3 separate regions of the Homo sapiens genome follow, and all the other regions are linked to region 1. The links come from fine-mapping of genetic effects on gene expression. A gene starts in region 1. Each other region holds a variant in brackets. All regions are shown on one strand. Distances are between the middles of the regions.

Region 1 (8,177 bases):
GAAATGTTGTGTTTTTAAATTTAATTTTCTTTTTTTTTTTTTGAGACGGAGTCTCGCTCTGTTGCCCAGGCTGGACTGCAGTGGCGCGATCTCGGCTCACCACAACCTCCGCCTCCCGGGTTCAGGCGATTCTCCTGCTTCAGCCTCCTGAGTAGCTGGGACTACAGGCGCACGCCACCATGCCCAACTAATTTTTGTATTTTTAGTAGAGACAGGGTTTCACTATGTTGGCCAGGCTGGTCTCGAACTCCTGCCCTTGTGATCCGCCCGCCTCGGCCTCCCAAAGTGCTGGGATTACAGGCGTGAGCAACCACGCCCAGCCAAATTTAACTTTCTAATTGTACATTGCTAGTACAGTAGTCCCCACTTACCTGTAGTTTCATTATCTGCAATTTCTGTTTCCCCAGTTATAGCTGCCTACAGTCAACTGCCCTCCAAAAATAGGTGAGTGCATACAAAAAGATATTTTGAAAGAGAGAACACATTTATATAACTTTTATTCAGTATATAATTATTCTATATTATGAACAGTTATTGTTGGTAATCTCTTACTGCGCCTAATTTGTAAATTAAGCTTTATCATAGGCATAGATGTATAGGGAAAAAAACCACAGTACACGGAGGGTTCTGTCTTATCTCAGGTTTCAGGCTTCCATTGGAACGTATCGTCCATGGATAACAAGGACTGTTGTAAACAGAAATAAGGTCAGCTTGTATAGTGTTGACTTTGCATGTATCTCCCCATGGATAAGGGGCACTGCTGTATGCAGAAATAAGGTCGCCAGGCCGGGCCCGGTGGCTCACGCCTATAATCCTAGCACTTTGGGAGGCCGAGGCAGGCGGATCACCTGAGGTTGGGAGTTCCAGACCAGCCTGACCAACACGGAGAAACCCCATCTCTACTAAAAACACAAAATTAGCCAGACATGGTGGCACATGCCTGTAATCCCAGCTACTCGGGAGGCTGAGGCAGGAGAATCGCTTGAACCCGGGAGGCAGAGGTTGCGGTGGGCCGAGATCGCACCATTGCACTCTAGCCTGGGCAACAAGAATGAAACTCTGTCTCAAAAAAAAAAAAGAAAAATAAGGTCGCCTTCTGTGTGTTGACTTTGTATCTTGTGACCTTGCTAACCTCATTAATTAGTTCTAGTAGCTTTTTCATAGATTCCCTGGATTTTCTATGTAGATAATCATGTTGTCAGCAAATAGGGACAATTTTCCCTTTCCAATTTGTATGCCTTTTCTTTCTTTGTCTGATACTATTGCACTGGCTAAAATAAGGTTTTTAAATTATGTCAGTGTAATTAATCCATGCTTTATCAATGGCCTCTAAGGGTTGGCTAAATTTTAATAGGAAAAACAATGAGAATAGCTTGGACATGTTAGTTAAAACTTCACACTATAAAATATGTTTTGGGTGGGCGCGGTGGTTCACGCCTGTAATCCCAGCACGTTGGGAGGCCGAGGTGGGTGGATCACCTGAGGTCAGGAGTTTGAGACCAGCCTGGCCAACATGGCAAAACCCTGTCTCTACTAAAAATACAAAAATTAGCTGGGTGTGGTGGCAGGCGCCTGTAATCCCAGCTACTCGGAAGGCTGGGGCAGGAGAATTGCTTGAACCCAGGAGGTGGAAGTTGCAGTGAGCCGAGATCACACCATTGCACTCCAGCCTGGGCAACAAGAGCAAAACCCTGTCTCACAAAAAATAAAATAAAATAACATAACATAAAAGAAAAGAAAACAAAGGAGGGAGGGAGATGTTAGCTATTATTTAAACCCAAAGTCACCTTTAGCATTATAAACTTGAGTATGTGCACAAAGATACAGACACAAGCATTGACTGTAGTGGTGAAAAACAGTAAATAACTATAATGTCAATCAACAGGAGGCTGATAAAATTATGAAACATCCACACTACAGAATACTATAGTGATTTGGCCGGGCACAGTGGCTCATGCCTGTAATACCAGCACTTTGGGAGGCTGAGGCGGGCAGATCACTTGAGGTCAGGAGTTCAAGACCAGCCTGGGCAACATGGCAAAACCCCGTCTCTACTAAAAAGACAAAAATTAGCCGGGTGTGGTGGTGCGTGCCTGTAATCCCAGCTACTCAGGGGGCTGAGGTGGGAGAACCACCTGAACCCAGGAGGCATAGGTTGTGGCGAGCCGAGTTTGCGTCACTGCACTCCAGTCTGGGCCACAGAGTTAAGACTCTGTCACAAAAAAAAAAAAAAAAAAAAAAAAAAAAAAGGAATACTATACGGTTATTTAAAAGATTGAGGGAAATCTGTGTGTACAGACTATATATATCAACATGTAAAGATTGCTAAGATCTTTAAGTAACCAAACATCATTAAGTGAAAAATGTATGACGATAATATATGCAATATGATCTCACTATGTTATTTAAAAAATTACTTATGCACAGAAAAGACTATTATACTACTTAGAAGTACCGAGGGAATTTCACTTTTAGTATACACGGTTCTATGCTGTTTAATGTTTTTAATGAACTATAGTTTTGTAATTTTTCTCATCACTTTATCATTTTAGTCTCTCTCTCAGGCTGTATCCGAGAGCCACACTTTTCAGACCCTTGTATCTTTACTCTTCAGGGACAAACCAGAGCATAGCTGAATCTCCAACGCCTTATGCTAAGCGAAACAAGCCAGACTCCAAGCCCACATGTGACATTCTGGAATGGGCAAAGCAGGAGGACTGAGGAACAGACAGGCGGCTGCAAGAGCGGGGAGGAGAGAGGCTGCCTTCCTGAGTATCCTGACTGCGGTGGAAGTCACTACAGTCCATGCACCTGCTACAGCTCACTGAACTGAACACCAAAAAGTGAATCTTACTAAAAGTTTAAAATAAATTTAAACACACACACAAACTTAGGGGGTACATTTTCTTTGAGCGCAGCACAGACACCTGTCTTAACGCAGGAAACGTCCTCCGCCACGACTCCAGGGCGCCTCGGTCGCAGTGAGGGCACCGGCACTATATCCCTACTGGCCCTACGAGTGCACACCTGCTACGGCCCGCGCCCACTCACAGCGTGACTCGTTCTTCCAGGCTCCGTGCCTGCAGATCTAGACATCACTTGGAAAACCGCTGGCCACCCGCAGGGAAAAGGCAGCATGCGTGGGGCCCCCGCGGGTCCCGGCCTGGCCGGGACTCTGCCGCCAAGCTGTCAAGCATAGCAATGTGCGCACTGCACCAGGCATCACCGCGGCTCCGACCACGCCTCATTCCGGAGTCCGACGGACGACTGCAAGAAACACCACCGCTCCCGGCGCAGCCACGGTGCCCTCCGCCGCCAGAAAACAAACGCTCCCGAGCCTCAGTCCCCAGCGGCGACCACGCGGCGCTGGGCTCAATCAGCAGCCGCTCCCTGACTGGACTTAATAGCGGAGCTGACACCGTCCAGACGCCCCTCTCAGCTTAAAACACGTTCCATCAACCCCGTTTCCCGATTATTCTTGCACCCTTCTTGTCACACCCACAATGTGCTGCAAATTAAGCTCACGCATTTCAGCCTTAAAATACACAATTCAGATGCTTGTGCGAAACAGTGCTGCCTCCGTAACGATCGCGCCTCCTTAACAAAGCCCAAAACTCCTCTCTCCAAGAATGCCCGGAATGGCTCCGCGGACCAGGCTCCCTCCGCTCCTCACAGGGGCACGAAACAAAAACGGGTTCAGATCTTGCTGCGCGACCTTAGTGCAACATTAACAATCTGCCTGCTCCTTACTTTCCAACAAAAACGTCAAACACTAAGGTATTCCTTCGCCACTGGAGCTGTGCCATGTGCCGGGGCGCGGAATCCGGGATCCGGGGGCGCGAGGCGGTGAACGCGGGGGCGGGGAGCTCGGGGCCGAGGCCGAAAGGCCGGGGGCGCAGGGACCGGGAAGCCAGTGCAGGGAGTGCGGGGACCTGGAGCCCGGGAGGCGCGGGAGCCCGGGGCCGGGACCTGGGGGACGCGGGGACCAGGACGATCCCGGAGGCCGCGCCGCCGGGGAGGCCGCGCCGCCGGGGTTGGGGGGGAGGGGGGGGTCCGTCCCGGCCCCGCCGCCGCCCTGGCCGGCCCAGGTTCCGAGGGGGACCCGGACCCCGCGGAGGCCGCAGGGCAGGCGCGGGCGAGCGGGGTTCCTCACCTGCGTCCGCGGCGGCTTGGGGGTCCTGGGCGGGCCCTGGGAGTTTCCTTGGCCGAGTGAGTCACTCGGGCTGGCCGGGAATGCGCCAGGAAACACTCGGCCTCCTCCCCTTCCTCCCGGGGCGGGGGCTCTCCCGGCTCGGCCTCTTCCTCCCGGCGCTCCTCCCTCCCGGCCGCGGCCCCGGCCGCTCCCTCCTCCTGGCGGGGCATCCCCGGCCGGGCGGCCCCTTTCCCCACGCCAGCCGCCGAAGGTGTCCTCCCAGGCAGAGAGCCCCTGGCTACCTGCCGGCCTGGGTCACCGCAGCCTGCGCGGGACGGCGGGGTCGGAGCGGAGCGGGCGTGGGGTCCTCCTGCGGGTCCGTCCGGTTCGGAGCGCGAAGGAACGGGGTCCGCACCCTGTCCCGGGGCTCCACCGGGTCAGGGCGGGGGTTGGCCTGAGCTGCGGAAGGAGCTCAGGGGGACACCCAGGACGCCCGTGTGGCGCCGCCCCACTTGGCAGGAGGCGCTCACCTGCGCTCGTCGGGAGGGTTCCAGGCGCGGGTCCCAGCTGCAGGTCGGCGCGCAGAGCCCGCTGGGGACCCCCCCGGCCGGCCCCTGCGGCCCCATTGCCTGCGGGAACCAGGGACAAATCCGTGCGCAGACCTGCGGGAACGGCGGACGGAAGAAAACCTGATTTGAGCTCGTGCCAAAAAACAATCTTGAAAGGCCGGTGAAGAAACATACCTCACACGGAAACGCTGAGTGGAGTCAGCTGGTCACAGGCGTGTTTAGGAAAACTGCCCTAAACGCCCCGCTCAGCCGCAGCAACCTCACTCCCCATTCATCCGCGACCCCTGGTTCTTACGGAGAACAGTAAGGATGGGCATCAGATATTCTAGTCTGGTCTCTAGATTATGAAGGTTTGGTTACCCCCGCTTGTGCTCTGCGGTAAGGCAAAAAGCAGCAAATGAATCCTGACCAGCGGATTGAGACAATCTACCAGTTGACTCAATATTCGGATATCACTTTCTCACATTCCTGCAAAACAGGGGCTTTGGATAACATTCTGGTTCCCAGTCCACACATTTTCAAATCAGCAGATTACTCCTTTTCTGTGCCTAGGGTGGAGTCTCAAAATTAGATTCCAAAGGTTTTTACATTGTAGATGACATGATAGAACCCAAATTCAAGTTATACTGTGATAATTTAAAATATTGTAATCCCGGCCGAGCGCAGTGGCTCACGCCTGTAATCGCAGCATTTTGGGAGTCCGAGGCGGGCGGATCACCTGAGGTCAGGCGTTCGAGACCACACTGGCCAACATGGTGAAGACCCCGTCTCTACTAAAAATACAAAAATTAGTCGGGCATGGTGGTGTGGGCTTGTAATCCCAGCTACTCGGGAGGCCGAGGCAGGAGAATCGCTTGAACCCAGGAAGTGGAGGTTGCAGTGAGCCAAGATCGTGTCGCTGCACTCCGGCCTGGGCGACAGAGCAAGACTCCGTCTTAAAATAATAAAATATTGTAATCCCTAGAGCAATTAATAAAAAATAATACAGCTAAAAATCCAAGAAAAGAGATAAAATAGAATACAAAAATATGCTTGATCCAAAAGAAAGCAGGAAGGAAGGAGCAAAAAGCACATAAGGCAAAGACAAAGAGCAAGCAGTTAGACTTCAACCACATTAGTAATCACATTGAATGTAAATGGACTAAACATGTAATCCGTTTACTAACTGTAAATGGATTAAAACACAGAAATTGTCACATTGGATTAAAAACGAGACCCAAATATATTCTGTTTTAAGAAGACATAATTTTGGCCGGGCACAGTGACTCATGCCTGTTAATCCCAGCACTTTCGGAGGCCAACGCGGGTGGATCAACTGAGGTCAGGAGTTCAAGACGAGCCTGACCCACATGGCAAAACCCCGTCTTTACTAAAAATACAAAATTAGCTGGGTGTGGTGGCACATGCCTATAATCCCAGCTACTCAGGAGACTGAGGCAGGAGAATCGCTTGAACCCGGGAGGCAGAGGTTGCAGTTAGCTGAGATTGCGCCATTGAACTCCAGCCTAAGCAACAAGAGTGAAACCTGGTCTCAAAAAAAAAAAAAAAAAAAGACATAATTTAAATATAAGGACACAAAGAGGCTGAAATTAAAAAGATGCAAAAGGACATGCTAATCAGAAAGGTGGAGTGATTATATTAATATCAAAGTAGAATTCAACTCAAGGGGCACTATCAGTGATAAAAAGGACATTTGATAAAAATAAATGGGTCAATTAAGTATGAAAAAATAGGCCGGGCATGGTGGCTCACGCCTGTAATTCCAACACTTTGGGAGGCTGAGGCGGGCAGGTCATCTGAGGTCAGGAGTTCGAGACCAGCCTGGCTAACATACCCTGTTTCTACCAAAAATACAAAAAATTAGCCAGGTCTGGTGGCACATGCCTGTAATCCCAGCTACTCGGGAGGTTGAGGCAGGAGAATCGCTTCAACCTGGGAGGCGAAGGTTGCAGTAATCCCAGCTACTTGGGAGGTTGAGGCAGGAGAATCACTTGAACCCGGGAGGCGGAGGTTACAGTGAGCCAAGGTCGTGCCATTGCACTCTAGCTTGGGCAACAAGAGTGAAACTCCGTCTCAAAAGAAAAGGAAGAAAAAATAACTTTTAGTGCATATATACATCAAATAAGTTTTGAAATATTTAGACAAAGATGGATAGAATCAAAAGAAGAAATAGGCGAATACACACTCATAGAGATTTGAACTTCTCTCTATTAGTAATTGATAGGACAGGCAGACACAAAAAGAAGTAAAGATACAAAATTTTTTTTAAGTAATTAACGTATTATACCTAAATGGCACCTCCACAAAACAGAATACAGAATGCATTGTACGGAATGAAAGATGTTCAGACGCTTTGTACTGAAGACTTCAAGCTGTTACTGACAGGAATTAAAGTTTTCAAATAAACACGTAACATTCACAAAATATACCATATGTTAGGAAGTAAAACAAGTCTCATCAGATTTCAAAGGGTCAAAATTATTTACAGTAGTTCCCACCTCATCTTCTGGGGGATAAGCTTCAAGACCCCTGGTGGATGTCTGAAAGGACAGATAGTAGCACACTCTACACTGTATAGACTATATATTTTTCTATATATGCAGGCCTATGATAAAGTTTAATTTATAAAGTACACACAGGTCGGTAATCCCAGCATTTTGGGAGGTCAAGGTGGGCGGATTGCTTGAGCTCTGGAGGCAGAGGTTGCAGTGAGCTGAGATTGTGCCACTGCACTCCAGCCTGGGCGATAGAGTGAGACTCACAGAGTGAGATTCCATCTAAAAATAAATAAATAAATAAATTAGACACAGTAAGACATTAACAATAATAAAAATAGAACAATTGTAGTGGTATACTATAATAAAAGTGATGTAGTTCGTCTCTCTCTCAAAATATCTCATTATACTGTACTAGTAGTCCCCCTCCTCTGAGTTCCAGTTACTCATGGTCAACCATAGTCTGAAAATAGGTGAGTATAGTACAGTGCTTATTTAAAAACAACCATTAGGCCAGGTGCGGTGGCTCATGCCTGTAATCCCAGCACTTTGGGAGGCCGAGGCAGTGGATTGCTTGAGCTCAGGGGTTCGAGACCAGCCTGGCCAACAGGACAAAACCCCCTCTCTACAAAATACAAAAATTAGCTGGGCATAGTAGGCGGTGCCTGTGGTCCCAGCTACCACTGAGGCTGAGGCAGGAGAATCACTTGAACCCGAGAGTTGGAGGTTGTAGTGAGCTGACATCGTGCCACTGCACTCCAGGCTGGGCGACAGAGCATGACCCTGTCTCAAAAAAATAGAACGAAATAAAATAAAATAAAATAAATAACCATTTAAAGCCTCTGGAAATGGGCCTAAGGGCAAACAGCCAATGAAGAATTATCTATAGAAATGAGACTACTATACAGCAATGGAACAGAATAGTGAAAATTAAGTACACATTATTTGGTCAATTGGTTTTCAATTAAGATGCTAAAGGAC
Region 2 (8,177 bases), 23 kb before region 1:
GCTTTGTAAGCTCTTTCTTTCTCCCAGCTTCCACAAAATTTCTCAAGTCATCAGAGCACCGTGCGGAGTGCTGGCCAGGGCCCTGCTGTGGCAAACTGCTGTTCTCTCCTATTCTTCACATTTTCATATTTCAGGTTTTTCATGATCATAGGCAGCCCTCCCACATCCGCCTTGGTGTGTGATGCCAAGCAGCTGTCACCGCACGCACACGGCCTGGGCCCGGCCCGCTTCCAAGGGCTCTCCGTCCGTGCATCTTCCATAGATGCGAATCTGCACAGCTTCTGCCTCACCCTGTTAGGCGGACTTGGAGTAATCAGCTCTAAATCCAAGTCTCCAAGGTCTCAGCCCTGGCAGCGTGGGTGCAGGGTCTGGCCTGGGTGCCACCTACAGAGCCAGCGTGGGGGCCCTGGCGGTGTCCACTCCACACAGGCACATCAGAGCTCATGTCTCATCCCATCTTGTTCTCTGACTCCTCACAGTTCCACCTCCCAAAGCTCTTTCAAGTGCATTTACTTTGCTCCGTCTCTAACTGCCACCAGCGGACCCTGCACCCCACTGCTAGAGAACAAAGGCAATGCGTGACTCCAGCCGCCTGCACCCTGGGATTTTTTCCGGCCCTCCTTTTGTCCTCCCATGAATGCCACGTCCCACAGGGATTTTCCCCCAGCACCAGCATCCAGCACAGCCTCTAGTCTCCTTCTGTGTCTAAGAAGCCCCCATTCCCAGGCAGCAGCACCAGGTCTGGCCTGGTCACTGCAAAGCCAGTGTCCACTGCCCTTGGAATGGAGCCTCAGTTGTATCTGACCAGCCTTTATAAGTGGCTGCCACAGTGCAAATATCCAACAGCATAATTAAAGTCACGTATTTGGAACGGCATACAAACTGTTCTGCCGGTGCTACTAGCCAGCACTTTAGAGTTTAACAATAGGATCAGGGCCTGGTGCAGTGGCTCACGCCTGTAATCCCAGCACTTTGGGAGGCCGAGGCGGGTGGATCACGAAGTCAGGAGATCGAGACCATCCTGGCTAATACAGTGAAACTCCGTCTCTATTAAAAATACAAAAAAATTAGCCAGGCGTGGTGGCGGGCGCCTGTAGTCCCAGCTACTCGGGAGGCTGAGGCAGGAAAATGGCGTGAACCCGGGAGGCGGAGCTTGCAGTGAGCCAAGATCGCGCCACTGCACTCCAGCCTGGGTGACAGAGCGAAGACTGTCTCAAAAAAACAAAAACAAAAACAAAAACAATAGGATCGCATTTCTGTCTCTGCTCCTTCAGCTCGTGTGGACAGGTACATTGATGTCCACTGCTTGGGGCCTGATCAGAGCAGGGCAATGCGTGACCAGGCACAGAGGGAAGACCACGAGAGGACACAGAGAGAAGGTGGCCATTCACAAGAGAGGCCAACCCTGCTGGCCCCCTGATCTCAGACTCCCAGCTCCAGAACTGAGAGAAAGAAATTCCTGCCTGATCTGTGGTGTTTTGTTAATGGTAGCCCTGGCAAATGAACACAGAGCCAAGAACAGGTAGGACGGAGTCACCCAGGTGGGACGCAGATTCCCTGCGCTGTCTGCCAGGTAAGAACCCACACGAGCTGGTATTTTGCTGATCATGAAAATAATACGTGCTCCATGCAGAAAGAGCACACTGCTGGGAACAAAACAAGCCAGCCAGACCTGCATGAGCTCGGTCACAAGGCGCTACCATGCCACAGTTCCAGCTGCCTGTGCCCCCGGCCTCCCCAGGCGGCGAACCGACCCAAAAATAACATGCCCACCCTCGGTTTATGTCATTGAACAACATAAAGAGATGTTTTTTCCTTCCCTGACTGATTTTCTATCAGCAGCAGTTCTCAACCCTCATGTTTGATTCCAAATCCTATAGCTTGTCAAGATATAAAAATGAATTTAAATATGGTAGGGGAACTGCTGTTTTAATAAGCCATCAGTTCGTTTATTTTGTAAATTTAAGAGTTTTTAAAAATAAAGATTTCAAAGGAGGACATCATCATACTTGGCTGCTCTTCCAGTGATGTCCTCAGAGTCCCGGGTCAATCTCTGAGTGTCTCATGGGTCGGGATGCACCTCTGCTCTAGGCAGCTGCAGGGCAGTTTACAGAGTGAGCAACATCCACCGGGCGGTGGCAGACTGGCTCCGTGTCTGAGCTCACATCATGCTGCACACCTCACTCACCTGCTGGATCGTGGAACCCCAGATGGGCTTCAAGGGACCCACGGTGGGCAGGAGGCAAAGGTTCCCAGTGCCACCCACTTGAAGGGCAGTGCCTACAGGGCATGCTGGGGGCTCCATGGGTCCACCTCCTTTCTTCCACATGTCACTGGCTGCCCCTCAGCCTCAGATCCACACAGATGCAGTCTCAAGAAGTGGTCCTCACAGCTGCCTTAAGGTGGAGGCCACCCTGACACATTGGCAAATGAGTGGAGGGAGGCTGGATGGGGTCGCCAGCTGCCCCAGGGCCCACAGCCACAGAGCAAGGTTGAGAACCGCCCTGACCCAGTGCCGGGTGCCCACCCAGGGGGTCAAGGCCAGAGGCACAGAGGTACAGATGGCCACTTTCCAAGTGCGAGTGAGGTGCTGGAGACCGATTTAGGCCTGAGGGGCAGGACAGAGGCAGCATGGAGCTGGAGCCACAGACAGAGTTGCCCCGGCGTGGGCAGGCAGCAGGGGCTGGGGAGGCAGGGGAGCAGGGTCAAGGACCCTGCTGGCCCCAGCAGAGCCCTGAAGATGCTGGAGAAAGTTGGAGACAGCAGGCCAAGGGGCAAAGGCAAAGGAGGCATGCACCAGTGCTTCCACCAACTAGAAAACGGGCAGATCCGCCCAGGCTCCTGGTCTTTAACCCATCTAGATGTGGCCAGCCCTCGCCACACTCCCCCTGCAAGCTCACGGGCTCAGGGCATCAGCCAGTGCCTCCCCATGCTGCCCTTGGGGAACCCAGTTCCCAGAGAGACCCTGGACCTCACTTCTCCACACAGCAGACATCCCAGGAGATGGGAGGGTGATTTTTGTAAAACCTCACAATCATCACATGCTTCAAAACAAAGAACAGTGAATCAACAGAATTTTTTTTAAATGTGATTTGGGGCTGGGCACAGTGGCTCACTTCTCTAATCCCAGCACTTTGGGAGACCGAGGCTTGAGGTCAGGAGTTTGAGACCAGCCTGGCTAACATGGCGAAATACTTCCTCTACTAAAAATACAAAAATCAGCTGGGCATGGTGGTAGGTGCCTGTAATCCCAGCTACTTGGGAAACTGAGGCATGAGAATCACTTGAACCCAGGAGGCGGAGGTTGTAGTGAGCTGAGATCGCGCCACTGCACTCCAGCCTGGGCGACAGAGTGAGACTCTGTCTCAAAAAAAATAAATAAATATGATTTGGTCCTTTTCCCTGTGTCTGAGCAGCATGAGGGCAGGTGGCTGGGAAGAAAGAGATGTCTCTCGTGCTCAGCAGGCAGCTCAGTCAGTAGGTCATAACCCTGAGTCCTGGCATAACTCAACAGTCTTGAAAATGAAAAAAGACACTACTAGGCTGCAAAAACAAATGGAAATTAAAGCAGCCAAGACTAACTTTAACCTGGAAGCAGAGGTGGTGCCAAGAGATTAAAAGGGAAAAGGAAAAAAAAAGTTTGTATGTGTGAGTGTGTATGTGTGTGAGTGTGTGTGTCTTCAATAAGCCAGCATCCCTGGGAGAACACAGGCCCCGTGGGAAACCGGCCTTGGACACCAGACAAAACAAAGGAGTCAAACAAGTCAGGGGCTCTGGAGACGGGGCATCTCAGGGGAGGCTCGGGGCAG[G/A]TGGCCAGGAAGGGTGGGGGCTGGTAAAGGGGGAACGGGTGGCCACACCATCCAGATGGCCCCACGGCCCCACTGCCGCCCCGAGACAGCAGTGTGCATGCGGCCACTCTGGCCGGGCCCAGGCTCCCAAGATGCCAGCGAGCACACAGCAGAATGGTGGCTGCACACACAGGGACAACGTGCACTGCCCGCTCCAGCCAGCCCCTGGCCACGGAGGGACCTTGTATTTTACCACATTAGAGGATAAACTTTTGAGATGTATTTACTTCTCTTTCCACCCTAGGTCAAGAGGGAGCTTTTCACAGGGACCGAACAGTCATCTCTTTAGGTGTTAAAATAGAAACTGCCAAGACAGCTCAACACCAAGGTTGCAAAATGTGGAGAAGCCACAATCCAGAAAATGCAGAAGCGAAGGCGTCGGTGCCACGCAGGCGGCAGTGCTGTGGCAGGCGGCACGCCGACGCTAACTCCCGCCACTGCAGCCCGCACTGAGACAGGTGGAGAGATGCTTTGCTAGAAAGAGGGTCTTCCCAGCATTTCTAAACCAGTCATTTAAAAATTTTACAACTTGTGGCCGGGCACGGTGGCTCACGCCTGTAATCCCAGCACTCTGGGAGGCCGAGGCAGGCGGATCACGAGGTCAGGAGATCTAGACAATCCTGGCTAACACGGTGAAACCTCATCTCTACTAAAAATACAAAAAATTGGCCGGGCGCAGTGGCTCACACCTGTAATCCCAGCACTTTGGGAGGCCGAGGCAGGTGGATCACGAGGTCAGGAGATCAAGACCATCCTAGCTAACACGGTGAAACCCCACCTCTACTAAAAATACAAAAAATTAGCCAGGCATGGTGGCGGGCGCCTGTAGTGCCAGCTACTAGGGAGGCTGAGGCAGGAGAATGGCGTGAACCCAGGAGGCGGAGCTTGCAGTGAGCCGAGATCGTGTCACTGCACTCCAGCCTGGGCGACAGAGCAAGACTCCATCTCAAAAAACAAAAAATGTTACAACTTGTAAGCATTCCACTTGTCCAGCTAAACAGCATAATCAAACAAAGACAAACTATGAAATGTTTCTGCAAACGTGCACAAGGCATGAGCTGATTTTCTTCCTCTTCTATATGCAAAATGATGGCACTTCCCAGAAAAGTAGAAACTTCCAATATTTTTGTGCAAGCTGTTCATGTAAAATAGGCATAAAATAAATCATCTGAAGAAGAAAAGCATACTTTGCTGTCCCTTTCTCTCCCAGGTGTAGAAAGAATGTGCTCTTCTGTATTTGGAAGCAGGGGACCGCGCCAGCATGGCTGCAGCTGGTTTTCCCCAGGTTAAACGGCCTGACCGCACGGCTGCAGCACAGAAACAGGCTGTCATGACCAGCAAGGCAAACAGTGCATAGTTAAAAACCAATATAACATCTTCTAGACTAGCTTTATTACTGAAGTAATTTGCTTTTTTTTTTTTTTTGAAATGGAGTCTCGTTCTTGTCACCCGGGCTGGCGCAATCTCGGCTCACTGCAACCTCTGCCTCCCAGGTTCAAGCAATTTTCCTGCCTCAGCCTCTCAAGTAGCTGGGATTACAGGCACCCGCCACCACACCTGGCTAATTTTTGTATTTCTAATAGAGACGGGGTTTCACCATGTTGGTCAGGCTGGTTTTGAACTCCTGACCTCAGGTGATCTGCCTGCCTCGGCCTCTCCAAGTGCTGGGATTACAGGTGTGAGGTAATCTGCTTTCTTTAATGCACAAAAACTTCAAATTCCATCCTCAAAAGCGGCCACTCAAAACCAGCTCAAAAGAACAGCCTCATCAACAGAGAAACAGAAATCAAGTTTGAAAATCACAATGAGGTGCTGACATCTAAAACAGTGTGCCAAGGAACCCTGAAAGAGAGCACGTCTCCACGCCACATGGCCTCCGCCCCCCACCTTGGGGCTGCAGCCCCTTCGGCCAGGGTCAGGCTGCCTCTGGGAGGGGTCTCCCAAGACCAAGTGGTCTCACAACCTCCTAACATCGCCCTCCCCCAGGCTTCCCTCTGATCCCCCAGGCACCGCCAAACCTGCACTCACCTCTGCTTCTCTTCCTGTCACTCTCCTGCTCACGCTTTCACTGGCTCTCTCTGCCTACAGCTGTGGTTTTCAAACCATGCGCCATGAAACCCCAGAGTGCCCCAGGAGGGCAAGGGAGAGCAGTTCTGTCTTTATCTGTCAAATTTGTATGAAAAAAACTATTCGGATGCTAAAATAATTAATAAAAGGCAGAGATGGGGCCCAGTATTCCACAGAATAAAGTCTCAATCGCTCATAGAACACCCAAGGGCCTCCCTCCATCTCCCACACCCCTGGGCCATGGAGGACCCGCTGTGCCATCCACCAGTCCCACTGCCCCAGGTGGGGCCCTCAGGACAATGAGAACATGCACCTCAGCCCAGGGCTGGGCTACCAGGCACACAGATGAGCTCGGGGAAGCTCCATCAGCCCACCTGGCAGATGCCTGGGTTGGGTAGGGATCAGGCTGGTGGGAGGGGCTGTTTCTTTCCCACCTGTGTGCACCTGGGCAACACACAGACAGCATAAACAATTAAGGAGTGCTCCTCGACGACGGCCATTCCTTCATCTTTCACCCGAATCCAGTGCATGTTTAAAAGGCACAAAGGGAAGAAGACAGCGTTTCCCGCTCCACCTACTCTTTCTGTTAGGGCAGACCCACCATGGCGGTCTCCGGGAGGACAGTCACACCACAGAGGGGGCGCTCCCACGCTCAGGAGAAGAGTGGGGGTCCCCATTCACAGATGCCGACACTGAGCCCAGAGGGACAGGGAGCTGCCGCAGCCCCGTGGCTTGCCTCACGTGCCTCAGTGGCGTGGCCCGCATGGCCGGGCAGTCCCGCCTGCTCAGGAGGCCATGGGCTCGGCTGGGCACCAAGCATGACCTCGGGCGCTTGACAAAGCAATTCCACCGCTGGCCATTCTGGCTGGGGGCTCTCAGCCTGCTCTGATTCCTGCGGCTTGAAGGAAAGGGAACTGGCTGCCACCCACCTTGTCCCCCACCTTATCACTGTGCCCAACAGACCGTGTATCTGCTGGGTCCTGCGGCGCCCGGCTGAGGAACAGGCGCCACGGGCGATCGAGCCCCGTGCTCCCCCTCCCCACCAGCCTCTCAGGTTCTCCTCTCAGGGCCCAGGAGGGTGCAGGTTGATGACCAAAGGCTACACGGCAGCCACCAGATCATCTTCACCCAGCATCCACACCTCCTGATGTGCCTGTTCTTTTCCTGTCTCTCCCTCCCCTGTAAGGACCTGAATCCCCGAATCCCCACGTGGCTGGCCTGGATGTGGCCTGGCCCTGCCAGGGTCTGGCATAGCCCAGTAGCAGCCCAGCCCTTCTCCTGCACCAAGTGCACCCACGAGGAGCTGCAGGCTCCCCTACTGCGCCTGGCCTGTGGGCCGAGTGTCTCCCGGGCTCCACCACTGTGCCCAGCCCGTGGGCAGAGTGTCTCCTGGGATCCCCTACTGCCTCCAGCCTGAGGTCAAGCCCATGACCTTAGCTACCACCTACACTACACCTCACTCGCCAATCTCTATCAAGGGTCCTGCTGTCAAGACACTTGGGCTGGAAACACCAGCATCAACCTCACCAGCTTCCTCCACATGCACCAAGACACCTCACAGGTCCCACGCAGTGGGGTGGTCTGTGCCTTCGGGTGCCCCATTTCAGCGGGCTCGTGCTCTGGGATGTCCCAGGCACCTTGCCGGAGACGTCCTGCAGAGACAGGAGCTCCATAAGCAGGCGGTGCCACAGAACATCCCCAGTGACTGTGAACCGAGCAGGGACCTAACGGGGAGCTTCTCAGGTAAACCAGAATCCTGATCTTAAAGCTCCGGGTCTTCACGAAAACTGTGGGAAAGGTATCCAGGCCATTTAGCTGTCCATCAAAGGAACAAAAGCAGAAAGCAGCTCTTTCACTGAGGTCATATAAATCTTTTCCACCATTACAGCAACACCTGCACATCCAGAACATGTGAAGGAAACACCACTGGCCCATGCATGAACCGCAGCCTGCTTCAGGGCGGCCCGCCCTCCTCCTGCTTAGGCATGAGACAAGCCTGACAATACCACATCTGGGCGGAAAAGCCTGGAGTGTGTTTGCAGATGACTTTCCTAGCAGCACATCCCAGGAGGTTTCTTAGGTCACACAATGTCTCTAAAGCTGCAGGTGGCTTTGGGCCAGGTGCCCTCCTACGGGGGCCCACGAACAAGGTGGAGCCGGACAGTAGCATGGCGCTTCCCAACAGAATCCAGGGGTCACTTCTGTTTTTATAATTTAATCTGAATGTTCTTTTAATTTGTATTTCATTTATTTATTTATTTA
Region 3 (8,177 bases), 50 kb before region 1:
GGGCAGTCCTTGTTGGAGTACTTGTCGGTGGGGTGCACAAGCTTCCAGGAATACTGTGGTGGCCGAAAGAGCAGAGGTGTTCCATATTGCATGCAAAACGCCTGGCTTCTGGTCTGACTCACACGATGGTGGCCAAAGCCAGGCCAGCCTTCAAACCTTTGCTGCATTCTGAAAGTCACACATGAGGGCGCACACACCGTCCATCTCCACAGATGGGCAAAAGACCCTGGCCCTGTAACCTCTCGTTTAAAAAATCTACCCGGCAAAATGGCCTGGATAGTGAGTGCTGAGTATCTAAGACTCTGGCATTTCATCATCATTTTAAAAAGGATTCTGGGCCAGGCACAGTGGCTCATGCCTATGACCCCAGCACTTGGGAGGTTGAGGCAGGAGGATCACTTGAGCCCAAGAGTTCAAGATCAGCCTGAGCAATATAGTGAGGCCTCATCTCTACAAAAAATAAAATAATAAGTAAGTAAATAAAGATTTTGCCTTTCAAATGACCATGTACTCTTCCAATTTGATAATTTTTATGTGATCAAAATAAATCACAAAAGGGAAAATCTTTCATTGCTTACAGGTATCCAAATCTTTATATGGCACCAGAAATAATTTACTAATGTTCAACAAAAGACATTGATGGCTGGAGCTCCAAAGAGAAAATGTTATCTTAAAAATGCAGGGCGTGAAGCGACATTAATGGGTACAAATGTACAGTCTGATATTAGAAATAAGACAGTGTTAGATAGATCAGTTAGGGTGACTATTAATTAAAATAATTTATGGTACATTTCAGAATAGATAGGGAAGAACTCGAATTTTTCTGGCATAAGGACAAATATTTATGGCGATGGACATCCCAAGCACACCAATTAGATCTTTGCAAACTGTATGACTGTATTAAATTATCACATGTATCCTGAAACTATGTACCCCTATTATGCATCAATACAAGTAAATATTTAAAGCAAAATAAAATTTAAATGAAAAAATGAGACTTGGCCAGGTACAGTGGCTCACGCCTGTAATCCCAGCACTTTGGAAGGCCCAGGCAGGCAGATGGCTTGAGGCCAGGAGTTTGAGACCAGCCTGGCCCACACGGCGAGACTGTCTGTACAAAAAAAACCAAAAAACAAAAAACTAGGCCAGGTGCGGTGGCTCAAGCCTGTAATCCTAGCACTTTGGGAGACTGAGGCGGGTAGTTCACCTGAGGTCAGGAGTTCAAGACCAGTGTGGCCAACATGGTGAAATACCATCTCTACTAAAAACACAAAAAAATTAGCCAGAAGTGGTGGTGGGCGCCTGTAATCCCAGCTAACTCAGGAGGCTGAGGCAGGAGAATCGCTTGAACCCAGGAGGCAGAGGTTGCAGTGAGCCGAGATCACGCCATTGCACTCCAGCCTGGGCAACAAGAGCGAAACTCCGTCTCAAAAAAAAAAAAAAAAAAAAAAAATTAGCCGGGAGCCGTGGTGCACACCTGTGGTCCCAGCAACTTGGGAGGCTGAGGCAGAAGGATCGCTTGGGGTGGGGAGTCAAGGCTGTAGGGACTTATGTTTGCACCACCGCACTCCAGCCTAAGCGACAGGGTGAGACTATCTCAAAAAAAGAACGACTTAAAGAAAATCACAATGGTACAAATTTAATTCTATCAAGATTTTTTTTAAAAAGGAGGCCCTTCATTTATTACACACATAAATGAGATGTACTTAAAATCACCTTGGAAACATATCTACTGATAGATATTCTCGTCTTTCTAGGGCCAAAGATAAAAAGCCCAAAGACCAAAAGTTAATGTGAATAAAGTGCCCGAGGCAGCTTTGGAGCGGGGCTGGGGTCGGGGACGGGGCCTACCACTTCCATCACGTGCGCGCTCCACTGCGACAACAGCTGCAGGCCCTGCAGCGCCAGGTCGAAGAGCTTGCGGTACTCCGCGTCCGTCTTCTGGGCCTCCTGGCGGCCCGAGCCCGTGACCACCTGCACAAGGCGGGCACGGCCCCGTGAGAAACCAGCGCCCCCACCCAGCTCCCCCCATCCCGGGATCCACCATGAGAATCCACCCCAAAGTCACACGTGTGAAAATAAGAAATGCAGGAGGCCAAGGCGGGCGGATCACAAGGTCGGGAGATCCAGACCATCCTAAAACGGTGAAACCCCGTCTCTACTGAAAAATACAAAAAAATTAGCTGGGCATGGTGGCGGGCACCTGTAGTCCCAGCTACTTCAGAGGCTGAGGCAGGAGAATGGCGTGAGCCCGGGAGGCGGAGCTTGCAGTGAGCCGACACTGCGCCACTGCACTCCAGCCTGGGCGACAGAGCGAGACTCCGTCTCAAAAAATAATAAATAAATAAATAAATAAATAAATAAATAAATAAATAAATAAAAAGAAAATAAGAAATGCTGTGGGTGCTGGACCCTCCTCCCGGGAAAATGGCGGCCAAGGGCGTGCTGCAGAGCACAGAGCAAGGGACAGGCCGCTGCCACAGCCACCGCCTGGGGGACCGCGGGCTGGGCGCGGGGCTGTTACACGCGTGGGCTTGGCGCACTTCCACTAGGCCGGGGAAGGGCAACACACAAGTCACGTGGGTTTGCTTCTATCAAATAACCACCCCCTAAATTTAAACATGTGACCTATGGGGAGGAAGGGGCACCGTGGAGAAGGCAGGCTTCTTTGAATATACCTTTTTATAGATGTGATATTAGAACCACACAAATATTTTATATATTTAGGACACAGAATTAAATGAGATCGGAAATGCAATGCCTAGAAGTCAAAAGCAAAATGAAACAATGGCGGGAACCTGCATGGAGCTCACAGCATGACCACTGAGAGGACCCTGAGCAGCTCTAAACACCACGGTGTGACTTAAAATCCTCTGAGTGAGGGGCCCGGTGCGATGGCTCATGCTGTAATCCCAGCACTTTGGGAGGCCGGGGCAGGTGGATTGCCTGAGGTCAGGAGTTCGAGATCAGCCTGGCCAACATAGTGAAACCCCATCTCTACCAAAAATATAAAAAAGTAGCTGGGCGTGGTGCTGCATGCCTGTAATCTCAGCTACTCGGGAAGCTGAGGCAGGAGAATTGCTAGAACCCAGGAGGCGAAGATTGCAGTGAGCCAAGATCCCGCCATCACACGCCATCCAGCCTGGGCAACAAGAGCGAAACTCCATCTCAAAAAAAAAAAAAAAAGTACCCTGAGTAAGAAGCTCAAGGGCAAAATCACCTGCAAAACAAATCATAAAACAATTTCTAGTCACTGTAATTAGTAGTGCTGGCATTGCTCTTTTAAGACTAGATTATGACCGGGTGCAATGGCTCATGCCTGTAATCCCAAAACTCTGGGAGGCTGAGGTGGGCGAATCACAAGGTCAAGAGATGGAGATCATCCTGGCCAACATGGTGAAACCCCGTCTCTACTAAAAATACAAAAATTAGCTAAGCATGGTGGCGTGCGCCTGTAGTCCCAGCTACTTGGGAGGCTGAGGCAGGAGAATTGCTTGAATCCGGGAGGTGGAAGTTGCAATGAGCCAAGATCACACCATTGCACTCCAGCCTGGGCAACAGAGAGAGACTCTGTCTCAAAAAAAAAAAAAAAAAAAAAAGGCCAGGCACGGTGGCTCACGCCTGTAATCCCAGCACTTTGGGAGGCCGAGACGGGCGGATCACGAGGTCAGGAGATCAAGACCATCCTGGCTAACAC[A/G]GTGAAACCCCATCTCTACTAAAAATACAAAAAAATTAGCCGGGCGTGGTGGCGGGCGCCTGTAGTCCCAGCTACTCAGAAGGCTGAGGCAGGAGAATGGCGTGAACCTGGGAGGCGGAGCTTGCAGTGAGCCGAGATCGCGCCACTGCACTCCAGCCTGGGCAACAGAGCAAGACTCCACCTCAAAAACAAACAAAAAAAAGACTAGATTATGACATAATGACATAAATCAAATTATGCTGGCGTCATTCACCAGGATGTTCAGCTTTCAGAAAAAAGAAAATCAACAAACCTAAAGTCGAATCACTTTAAAATTGTACTCAGAGGCCGGGTGCGGTGGCTCATGCCTGTAATCCCAGCACTTTGGGAGGCCGAGACGGGTGGATCACCAGGTCAGGAGATTGAGACCATCCTGGCTAGAACAGTGTCTCTACTAAAAAAACACACAAAAAACACACACAAAAAAAAACACAAAAAAACACACACACAAAAATTAGCCGGGCGTAGTGGTGGGTGCCTGTAGTCCCAGCTACTCGGGAGGCTGAGGAAGGAGAATGGTGTGAACCTTGGCTTGCAGTGAGCCGAGATTGCACCACTGCACTCCAGCCTGGGCGACACAGCAAGACTCCGTCTCACCCAAAAAAAAAAAAAAAAAAAAAAACTGTACTCCGAAAAAAACTGATTTGTTACCTTAGACAATGCCAGAGAAACAATTACAGTCAGATGCCACCTAAGGATGCTCCAGTCAACAAGACCACACACATGATGGTGCTCCCATAAAATCTTAACGTAGTGGAAAAATTCCTACTGCCTAGTGATGTCCTGATGATCCTGACCCCGTGTAGGCCTAGGCTAATGTGTGTGTTTGGGTCTTCATTTTTAACGAAAAAGCTCAAAAGGAAAAAAACAAAAACTTTTTGGTAGAAAAATAATTTACAGAATAAGGAGATAAAGAAAAAATATTTTTGCACAGGTATAGAGTGTGTTTGTGTTTTAAGCAAAGTGTTGTTACAAAAGCCAAAAAGCTCTTTTTAAAAGTAAAAAGTTTATAAAGTAAAAAAGTTACAGTAAGCTAAGGCTAATTCGTTATTAAAGAAAGAAAAAGCCTTTTAAAAAATTTAGCACAGCCTAAGCACACAGTGTTCATAAAGGCCACAGCAGTGCACAGTACTGTCCTAGGCCTCCCACTCGCTCGCCACTCACTCACTGACTCACCCAGGACAGCCTCCTTGTCTGACATGCCCAAACGCTTGCCAGGGGTCTGTGTTAGAAGCAGCAGGTGCCCCAACATACCTGGACTACTGGGTTGTCAGTCAGTTTGGTTACATGATGATGACTGGTAACCATGGGGGGTGGGGGACAGGGTGCTCATCGTCCTGCAGTGGGTGGGGCCAACATCCACAGAGTTGTCCCCGCTAAGGTTAATGGTCCTCCTGAGACCCTTGAGGGACTAACCAGTTCAGCAAAGCAGCCTGCGTATATGCCCTAAAACCCGCAGTCCCTGCCAGCAATTTGCAGCACAGACATGCCAGCAGTGCTGGCTCGGAGTCAACCTGGGTGAGTGAGGAGAATGGGAGTGGCCAAAATGACAACATGGCAAACCCAGCTGCAAAGCTGGAAGGAACTAAAGAGAAAGCACCTGTTCTCTGCACCCAACTCCAGGCCCACCTCCTGGACACATGGACCCAATGCCCCTGGGACGTCTTCTGACAGCCACCCAGAGGCTCCTGCTCACCTCTGGCCTCAGGACTTCTTCCCTTCTAGGCTTACAGGGGCCCCAGGTCAGAATCACCCTTTCCTTTCCCAGTGTCCTCCCTTCTCTCCAACCATCTTTCGAGTTGCTTGGAATCACAGTACTAGACTAGGAAATGCCACTTAATCAATTAATTATCTCATCTCTGTCCTTTCTCTTGGGATCCCTATAATGTTTTTCTGAAAAAAAAAAAAAAAAAAAAAAAAGCTTTTTGTACAGCTGAACAGAGAGAACACTAGTTTCACTGCCTTGTCAATTATAATGGGTGCTTTTGAAGTACAGTCATGCACCACATTTGGTCAATGACAGCATATACAACGGTGGTCCCATAAGATTATAATACCATCTTTTCACTGTACCTTTTCTATGTTTAGATATGTTTAGATACACAAATACATACCATTGTGTTACAACTATCCAGAGTCTTCAGCACAGCAACGTGCTCCATAGGTGTGTGGCCTAGGAGCCATCCGCTGTACCCTGCAGCCTAGCTGTGCCACAGGCTGTACCATCCAGGCTAGCATGAGGACACGATGACGTTCCCACAATGATGAAACTGCCTAATGACACATTTGTCAGAACCTGTCCCTGTCATTATGTGACATATGATCGTATCTGGTAGTAAACTGTTTTTCAAAGCAATTAAACCTAAGATTTGGGTGCAAACACACACAGGCGACCCTCGGGTGCCTGTGCAGCTCCAGGTCGCGGGGCGCACCTCGCTGTTGCTGTAGCGCGCCAGCTCCGAAATGAAGCGCATGTGGTCCTCGCGGATCTGGATCATCTGCTCGCAGATGTTGTACTGAGGGCTGCTGCCGGAGGATGTGCACGTCCATCTGTGCAGAGAGAAAGCACCCGCGTTACCTGCGGAGGCGCCGGCAGGCCACAGCACTGGGGCAGCTCAGGACGCCTGTTTGGCACCAGAGCCACACAAATGGCTTTTATGTTTTTAAAGGGTTGTTTAAAAAAACAACACAGAAGCATATCCGAAGGAGACCACCTGTGGCCTGTAAAGCCTAAAATACTTGTTATGTGTCCTTTACTGAAAAGGTTTCTTGACCCCTGAGACTGAGATGCAACTTCGTTTGTCAAAATCATGGCTGAATGGTGACTGCAGGTTGGCTACGGGCACAGTGCTTGGCAAAAGTCAATGAAAGCCTCCCCTGAGGCTCAGATGGCTCTGTAGAGTCTGCAGTGGGGAGGAGTGCCTGCCAGCATCTGGAACTGTGCTGAGGATCTTTATAGTTCTTCACAGAGTAAGATGGTACACAGTTTAGGATTTAGGGCCACATTGTCTGCAGATGTCACATCTGACACACTGTCAGTCTCTTCTTTTTTTCTTTGAGGTAGGGTCTTGCTCTCTTGCCCAGGCTGGACTGCAGTGGTGCAATCTTGGTTCACTGCAACCTCCACCTCCTAGACTACTCAAGTGATCCTCCCACCTCAGCCTCCTGAGTAGCTGGGACTACAGGCGTGTGCCACCATGCCCGGCTAATTTTTGTATTTTTTCATACAGTCAAGGTCTCACTGTGTTGCCCAGGCTGGTCTCAAACTCCTGAGTTCAAGAGATCCATCCACCTCGGCCTCCCAAAGTGCTGGGATTACAGGCATGAGCCACCGCGCCCCACCCTCTTCTTTTTTTTTAAGACAACCTTTTTAAACATAAAGACTATCACCCAGCACTGTCCAATAGGAATCCCTAGGATGATGAAAGTGTTCTGTATCTGTGCTGTCCAACACAGTAGCCACTAACTATTGAACATTTCAAACGTGGCTGTCGTAAGGAAATTAAAATTTCAATTGTATTTTTCTTTCTTTTTTTTTTTTTGAGACGGAGTCTTGCTCTGTCGCCCAGGTTGGAGTGCAGTGGCGCGATCTCTGCTCACTGCAAGCTCCGCCTCCCAGGTTCATGCCATTCTCCTACCTCAGCCTCCCAAGTAGCTGGGACTACAGGCGCCCACCACCACGCCCGGCTAATTTTTTCTATTTTTAGTAGAGACGGGGTTTCACCGTGTTAGCTAGGATGGTCTCGATCTCCTGACCTCGTGATCCGCCCGCCTCGGCCTCCCAAAGTGCTGGGATTACAGGCGTGAGCCACCGCGCCCGGCCTCAATTGTATTTTTCAATAAACTTAAATGTAAATAGCCGCATGTGGCAAAGGCTGCAATACTGGACATTTAATTCCAGGCTGAGAATGTTAACAGTGTTATCTCTAGACAAATAAGCAGGATGTTTGAAAACCGCACAATGAGGACACTGCCGAAAGCTCAAACCAGGCAGCTTTCCTCTCCTCCTACCGAGATTTATTTTCCTCGTAGTGGGCGCTGGTCTTGATATATCTTGCCAGTTCTATTTGCATGTCCCCAAATAGCGGAACCACCTGGAGTTGCTGTATTCAAAGAACAAAAAAATAGAGTCATTATGTATATTTAGTCACCAAATACATAAGCACAAGGAAACTGACTAATGCTAATAATTACTTCGGCTTGAATGCTACCTCTGCAAATGATTCATTACAAAAAAAAAACTATAAGTAACTTCTACATTCGCTTTGAGAGGAACAAAATACAATTTAAAAACCAACATCTATAAAAACTATTCAAATGTTAAAATTAACCTACCATGTTGCTAGATCCACAGTCATAAAAAAAAAAAAATCACTGCATTTCTTTCTTTTTTTTTTTTTTTTTTTTTTTTTTTGAGACAGAGTCTCGCTCTGTCGCCCAG

Alleles and levels. Alleles are on the strand shown, and positions count from the first base shown. SD is a standard deviation of normalised expression in the study named. Not every link is listed here.
In carriers of allele A in region 3, the expression in stomach of the gene that starts at base 4,235 in region 1 tends to be lower than with G alone (small effect, 0.31 SD a copy in GTEx).

What was found.
Region 2: its variant is fine-mapped to the expression of CYFIP1 in whole blood (TOPMed, PIP above 0.99).
Region 3: its variant is fine-mapped to the expression of CYFIP1 in stomach (GTEx, PIP 0.91).

What each region holds. Positions count from the first base shown.
Region 1 is chr15:22,976,134-22,984,310 of GRCh38, forward strand. It overlaps CYFIP1 (cytoplasmic FMR1 interacting protein 1), which reads right to left and starts at 4,235. Exons shown (of 31, transcript NM_014608.6): 1 at 4,154-4,235. It also overlaps a transcript of TUBGCP5 not described here. RefSeq lists enhancers at 433-932, 933-1,434, 2,564-3,531, 3,532-4,500.
Region 2 is chr15:22,952,840-22,961,016 of GRCh38, forward strand. All of the region lies in intron 1 of CYFIP1 (cytoplasmic FMR1 interacting protein 1), which reads right to left. Among named protein-coding and RNA genes, the nearest start is that of CYFIP1, 23 kb to the right of the region's middle. The variant G/A (reference allele first, on the strand shown) is at 3,810.
Region 3 is chr15:22,926,055-22,934,231 of GRCh38, forward strand. It overlaps CYFIP1 (cytoplasmic FMR1 interacting protein 1), which reads right to left. Exons shown (of 31, transcript NM_014608.6): 10 at 7,748-7,839; 11 at 6,169-6,286; 12 at 1,852-1,974; 13 at 1-53. Among named protein-coding and RNA genes, the nearest start is that of CYFIP1, 50 kb to the right of the region's middle. The variant A/G (reference allele first, on the strand shown) is at 3,698.